Homo sapiens: one gene and its partner. The protein of the gene in region 1 purifies or fractionates together with the protein of each later gene. This does not show direct contact. Each region holds a gene or a part of one and is shown on either strand. Other genes may lie near its edges. The genes, in order: UGT1A9 and ABHD12.

Region 1 (3,824 bases):
ATGAAAGTTTTTATACTTGTGGAAGATTACATATATTAATGTATGTATTTATGACTATACGTGTAAAGCCAGCGGAGTTCTCACAGAGGAATTCAGAACTCAAAGAAGGCTTTCCGGCAAAGAGCCTTGGATATGGCCCAACCACAGAAGTAAATTGTCATTGACAGAAGGATGGACACTTCATATTGCTCCTTCCTTGTTTCAGATGCCAGGATGTGTCTGGGAAAAGCATGCAGTTGGTTACATCTTGCTGGGAAACAGGATTCAGAGTCTGTGTCTTATCTGTCTGATGAGAAGGAAGCATTACTTGATGATGGAGTATGTGTTTGCACATGTATGTGTTTGTGTATGTGCAGGTGTGTTTGTGTGCAGTGTCCCAGACCCTGCATAGGGGATTTTCTTGAAGGTCTCCTGTAACAAAATCTCCTTGAGGCTATCCAGGGGAATTACATCCAGGGATGTAATTAAATACTTTAACAAGGATGGCAGATGGCCCCGTCTTCAATGTCAGGGATCAAATTTCAACGTGAGATTTGGAGGGGACAAACTTCTAAACTATATCATTCCGTGTGGTCATTCTTTTACATTCCAGCGTTCTAATGTGTGTGTGTTGATTAATGATGTGTAAATAATTCAGCAGAACATTGAAATAGTTTTAATGGCAAAAAGAGGAGGTCCCTAGTCTTTTTGAATTTTTGATGAGTTCCAACAGAATTAATGACTGGTTTTAGGTGAAAAGAATTCAGGCTTTGTCTATACCATCCATGGCAGGTGCGGCTCTGGGGGTGGGATATGGTTACAGATAAATAAGAGATCTGTGCTTCCCCCCTTGCTGTAAGATTCTGGCTATAGTCCAAGATCCAAATTCAAAGTTAGCTTTTGGTGGACAAGACTAAGGCCTCCCACTAAAATTATTTACTTCAAGTTTTTATTTTCAAAGTTTTCAAACATACACAATGGAGAGACTCAGTGTAATGAGCACCCACTTATCCATTCTTAGGTTAAATAATTTTCACTATTTTGCTCTACTAATTCATCTATCCCTTTATTCTATCTTTTTAAAGAAAACTTTTAAAAATAAATTTGTATGTTTTTAAAAAGAAATTCTTGGCATGTCATTCCATCACTGAACAATTCATTTAATATAAAAAATAAGAAAAATTTGTTACATAGCCACAATATCATTATCATATCTAAGACAATAAAAATTCTTTAATATTATCTCATTTACAGTCCATAATAAAATTTCCCCGGATTGTCTCACACAACATCTTTCCATACAGATCAATGGAATAGAATGGAGAATTCAGAAATAAACCCATACATATACATCCTTGGCCAATTGACTAGGTGCCAAAGTTTGACAAGTGTGTCAAGATCATTCAAATGGGAAAGAATAGTCTTTTCAACAGAAGACCCACCCTGGGGTCCTTGAGCTCCAGCGTCAGACTCCAAAACCATTTGTGGAAATCATCCAGCCACCTCCCACCATGCCTCTGATGAATCCTTCACCGATGGATTCATCAGAAGCATGGTTGATGATGAATTCACTGATGAATCACCCCTGTGTGCATCCACAGGGGTCCTGCAAATATTTTCTCACAGTCTGTTGAGTGACTTTTCTTACAAATACTTCATTGTAGAATAAATATAGGATTATAGCAAGGTTACAACAAATAGTTTAGAGAATTTTCATCTACCCTGTGTCCAGTTTCCACCATTGTTAAATCTCATGTTTCTATGGCACATCCATCACAACTCATTCACCAATATTGACGCATAATGATGAGCTAAAAGCTAAAGTCTGTTTCCTTCAGATTTCATTAATTTTTACTTAATTTCCCTGTTCTTTTATGGGATCCCAGTGATACCACCTGAAATGTAGTCATCATGTCTCCTTTGTCTCCTCCAGCCTGTGACGGTTTCTCAGACTCTCCTTGTTTTTAGTGACTTGGGCAGTTTCGAGCAGTCCTAGTCAGGTGTCCTGTAGAATGTTCCTCTAGAATGTCAGTGTGTGTTTTGCCTGATGTTTTCATCGTGGTAAAACTGGGTTTATAGACTTTTGGTAGGAAGACACAGAGGTCTTTTCTTGTTTTCTTGCGTGTGAATATTCAACTGTAGAAAAACAGAACCTTTTCTCCACTGCATTGCCTTTGTACCTTTGTAAAAACTTGGTTGTTCATACATCTGTGCACGTATTTCTAGACTTTGTATTCTGTTCTGTTGATCTATTTGTGAAATATTTGATTACTATAGCTGTGTAATAATCTATAAATGAGGTAGTGTTACCTCTAATTTTTTTTTTCAAATTGCTTTTGCTATTGGAGGTCTTTTGCATTACCATATGCATTTTAAAATAAGTTCATTAATGTGTGCAAAAATCCTGCTAGGATTTTGATTGGGATTGTATTTTATTTATAGATCAACTGGGGAGAAACAACATCTTAGCAATTTTGAGTTTTCCAATTCATTAACATATCTTTTTATTTAGGTCCGTCATCAGTGCTCTGTAGTTTTCAATGTACAGTCTTTCACATCCTTTGTCAGATATATCCCTAAGTATATCATGTTTTTGATGCTATTTAAGTGGTATTTTTAATCCAGTTTTCAAGTGTTCATTGCTAGTATAGTTGACCCCTGAACAATGTGGGAATGAAGGGGACCAACCCGTGTGTAGTAGAAAATCCGCATAGAACTTTTGATTCTCCAAAAACTTAACTACTAATAGCCAACTGTTTACCAAAAGCCTTGCCAATACCATAAACAGTCAATTAACACATAGTTTGTATGTTATTAGTATTATATCCTGTATTATGACAATGCAGCTAGCTAGAGAAAAGAAAATGTTATTAAAAAACGTAACATATGAAAAAATGCTCAACATCACTAGTTACCAGAAAAATGAAGATGAAAACCACAATAAGATATCATCTCACACCAGTTAGAATGGCTGTTATTAAAAAGTCAAGAAATAATAGATGCTGGTGAGGCTGCTGAGAAAAGGGAACACTTGTACCCTCTTGGTGGGAATGCAAATTAGTTCATCCCCTGTGGGAAGTAGTTTGGAGATTTTGCAAAGAACTTAAAACAGAACTGTCATTCGACCCAGCAATCCCATTACTAGATATATGTAAAAAAAATCGTTTTACCAAGAAACACATGCACTGGTATGTTCATTGCAGCTCTATTCAGAATAGAAAAGACATGAAATCAACCTAGGTGCCCGTCAACAGTGGCTTAGATGAAGAAAATGTGGAACACATACTCCATGGAATATGCAGCCATAAAAAAAGAATGAAATCATGTCCTTTGTAACAACATGGATGCAGCTGGAGGTCATTACCCTAAGGGAATATATACAGGCACAGAACACCAAATACCATTGTTTTCACTTAGAAATGGGAGCTAAATAGTGGGTACTTTTGGGCATAAAGATGGCAACAATAGACACTATGGACTCCTAAAAGGGAGAGGAAAGGCTGCAAGAGTTGAAAAACTATTGGGTACTATGCTCAGTACTTGGGTGATGGGAGCAATCATGCCCCAAACATCAGCATCACACAATATACTCAGGTAACCTGCACATGTACTCCTGAATCTAAAATAAAAGTTGAGTATGTATAAGAGGAAGTCATTCATCATAAAGGTCTCCATCCTCATCATCTTCCATTGAGTGGGCTGTGGAGGAGGAGGAGTAGATGTTGATTTTGCTGTCTCAGGGTGGCAGAGGCAGAAGAGGTAGAGGAGGTGGAAGTGGAGGCAGGAGAGGCAGGTGCACTTGGTGTAACCTTATGGAAATACATCATAATTACTGTCTGTTTTTT
Region 2 (3,824 bases), on another chromosome or scaffold:
CGCTGTAGGAGGGAGAAGGGGCTAGACCAAGACCAGGGAAAGGGCAGAGTTGCCCAGACCCTCTGTCCATGGCAGGGATCTGGGTTCAGGGTGTGTTTTGGGAAACAGCCTGATTTCTGCTGGATTTCTTTTTACTAGACAACTGAAAGTTAACTCTTCATTATCTCTATGAACATCTATTACAGCTAGATGACAGGTGTCAATCACAGCTATATAACTGGCCCTCGGAATGTCTTCTGAAAATTGAAAATGATTATTTTTCCACCAGATATATATATTTTTAAGCGGAATAATTCAGGTGGGCCAAGAAACTTAGTGTAAATGAATGTTACTAGGAATCTGTTGGTAAAAAAAGTCAATGTTCTCTAATTTATCTGTGTAAGTGACATTTATGGTCACTCCAACTCTAAACACTTAGAAGTGATTTAGGATTTTCAGTAGGTTTGATAGATCCAAATCCTTCAGCAAACCACATAACAGAAGCATGGGCTGCCAGGACCGGCGGAGCCTGGGCTCTCCTGTGCGGCCCTCACTGAGGTGGTGCCTGACCCAAGTCTCCTTTATCCCCAACAGGGCTGTGTGCTCCGTGAGGGCAGCGCTGGTGCACTCCTGGCACCTGGAGCAGGACCCGGTGGGGAGCCCCCGCCCTGTCTGTGCTGCTGGCAGGAGGCACACACTCTTGCTTCCCAGTAAGGCTTGTCTGATGTGCGAGTCCCTCTCACCAGAGGCTCTGGAGGAAGCGGCAGTACTTGGGATTTCCCAGACCACGGCCCACCTGAGCTCAGGAAAGCCCCTCCTGCCCTCAGAGCTGTGCCCCTGACTTCCAATGAGCTGAGGGTGGGGGTCTCACCCAGGGTCACCTGTACTCCATCTGGCTCAGCTGGGAGGGTCAAGGCCAAAGGCAGCTTCAGGGGCACGGTACTCAAACTTGCTTTTTTTGTTTGTTTTTATTTTTTATTTTGAGATGAGTCTTGCTCTTTCACCAGGCTGGAGTGCAGTGGTGCGATCTCAGCTCACTGCAACCTCTGCCTCCTGGGTTCAAGTGATTCTCCTGCTTCAGCCTCCCGAGTAGCTGGGACTACAGGCGTGCACCACCACGCCTGGCTAATTGTTTTGTATTTTAGTAGAGACAGGGTTTCACCATATTGGCCAGGATGGTCTCAAACTCCTGACCTCGTGATCTGCCTGCCTCAGCCTCCCAAAATGTTGGGATTACAGTGGTGAGCCACCACACCCAGTCACAACCTTGCTTTTTAAGAAGGAATCCAGTTCATTCAGATAATTCTTTTTTTCTTTTCTTTGTTGCCCAGGCTGGAGTGCAATGGCATGATCTTGGCTCACTGCAACCTCCGCCTCCTGCCTCAGCCTCCCGAGTAGCTGGGATTACAGGCATGTGCCACCACACCTGGCTAATTTTGCATTTTCAGTTGAGACGGGGTTCACCATGTTAGGGTGATCTTGAACTCCTGACCTCAGGTAATCCACCTGCCTCAGCCTCTCAAAGTGCTGGGATTACAGGCGTGAGCCACTGCACCCAGCCCAGATAATTCTTTTTCAAGTTCCAAAACAGTAGTATTTACAAACAAGCAGGGTTTGTTGCTTAAAATATTTGTTCAACTTTTAATTTGTTCTATTTTTATTTTTAGAACCAAAACATACTTGATGGGAAAAAATACTCCATTTTTTTTCATATTCTGTTTCAAATTAAATTAAATATTTATAGGGTGTTTTACTTTCCCTCTTTTTTTTTTTTTGAGACGGAGTCTCGCTCTGTCGCCCAGGCTGGAGTGCAGTGGCGCGATCTCGGCCCACTACAACCTCTGCCTCCCGGGTTCAAGCGATTCTCCTGCCTCAGCCTCCTGATTAGCTGGGACTACAGGCACGAGCCACCACACCCGGCTAATTTTTGTATTTTTAGTAGAGACAGGGTTTCACTGTGTTAGCCAGGATGGTCTCGATCTCCTGACCATGTGATCTGCCCACCTCAACTTCCCAAAGTGCTGGGATTACAGGCATGAGCCACCACGCCCAGCCTACTTCCCTCTTTTTTTAAAGAAATCAAAATTCATGATATAAAAATGTCACAAAGACAATATCAATACAATCTGAAAAAGGTTTAAAAAAAGAACCCTTAACTAGAATACTTAACTTTTGGTTTACCTAATAGATTTTTAACAATAAACTTTGTAATATATTTCTATAACCAAACACAAATCAAATGGCTGAGGCAAAGTCATTTTCTGATTAAGTCAGTATCAGCAGGGCTCAGTGGCTCACGCCTGTAATCCCAGCACTTTGGGAGGCCAAGGCGAGCAGATCACCCGAGATCAGGAGTTCGAGACCAGCCCGGCCAACATGGTGAAACCCCGTCTCTACAAAAATACAAAAAAATTAGTGGGGCATGATGGCGGGTACCTGTAATCCCAGGTACTCGGGAGGCTGAGGTGGGATAATCACTTGAATCCAGGAGGCAGAGGTTGCAGTGAGCTGAGATCACGCCACTGCACTACAACCTGGGTGACAGAGCAAGACTCCGTCTCAAAAAAACAAAAACAAAAAAAAAAAAAAGAAGAAAAATCAACCAGTTAATATCACTGTTTTAATATGTGTTTTGGTTTTCACAAACCATTTTGAAATAAAACAACTCTATGGACAAAAACTATGTTATTTTAATATTGCTTTACTTCTATAATCTTTTCAGATTTCTTATTTCTTTCTGTTACAGTTCTTTACTTGCCCCCTGGCCCACAATTTTTTTTGTTTTGTTTTGAGACAAGGTCTCACTCTGTCACCCAGGCTGGAGTGCAGTGGTGCAATCACGGTTCACTGCAGTCTTGACCTCCCCAGGCTCAGGTGATCCTCCTAACTCAGCCTCCCATGTAGCTGGGACCACAGGTACACGATGCCACCATACCTGGTCAATTTTTGGATTTTTTGTAGAGACAGGGCCCTGCTATGTTGCCCAGGCTGGTCTCAAACTCCTAGGATCAAGCGATCTGCCTTCCTCAGCTTCCCAAAGTGCTGGGATTACAGGTGTGAACCACGGTCCCTAGCAGGCTTTCCCTTTTTAAAGACCTGTTTGCTAGAGAATGACCCTAAATACACTGAATTCCATCCTATTTGATTACTGTGACTAAAGAGGCTCATCCAGAGGTTCTCAGAGTTTTTCTAAATAGGAAAATTAGTTCCTGTCCCATAATACTCACTTTTCATCATTTGCAAATTTAATTCCACTACTTGTAATAGGATCAAGGAAGAACCAGTCAAACCCAGGGAAGTATCGATATATCTGGAGACAAGATGGAAACCATTTTCAGAAGCGTTGGTTAAGATATCCAGGCACAGGTCAAGGGTGCAGACAGTTTAAGTTCAGAAATCTATAAGGCGTTGCCCATAACTACCCTACCTAAGGGAGCAGGGGTGACATTGCCAAGGGGCCACCAGAGCTGTGCCCTGGCACCTTCTGCCCTGGCCGTGTCCTGGCTTTGCTGCTAGGAACAGAAGAATCACCCGCCAGGCCCCACAGACTGGCATGGCAGGGGCTGCCCTGCAAATGGGGCTCCCGCACCTCCCAGCCAGGCCAGAATCCACCCCAGAAACCAGTCTTCCCGCAGACACCAGGGCCGCCACCCCTGAGAAAGTGGGGTCTATGGACAGTTTCCTCACACAATTTAAGAAAAGCAGCACCAAAAAGTAAGATAAGATAAAAGGCTCTTCTGGTTGGTAACAGAACAGCATGAGGCCAGCATGGGCTGACACAGGCCCGAGAATCCATGGCCAGTGGGGAGCACAGGGATCACAAACCAGAGTGAGAAGGAGGGGAA

Evidence for each region.
Region 2: the proteins of UGT1A9 (region 1) and ABHD12 purify together in Homo sapiens (affinity purification with mass spectrometry; one large-scale study listed by BioGRID and IntAct). This does not show direct contact.

The regions. Positions count from the first base shown.
Region 1 is NC_000002.12:233,674,703-233,678,526, forward strand, and holds part of UGT1A9 (UDP-glucuronosyltransferase 1A9 precursor), read left to right. Parts: intron 1-3,824.
Region 2 is NC_000020.11:25,303,627-25,307,450, forward strand, and holds part of ABHD12 (lysophosphatidylserine lipase ABHD12), read right to left. Parts: intron 3,290-3,824; coding exon 3,207-3,289; intron 3-3,206; coding exon 1-2.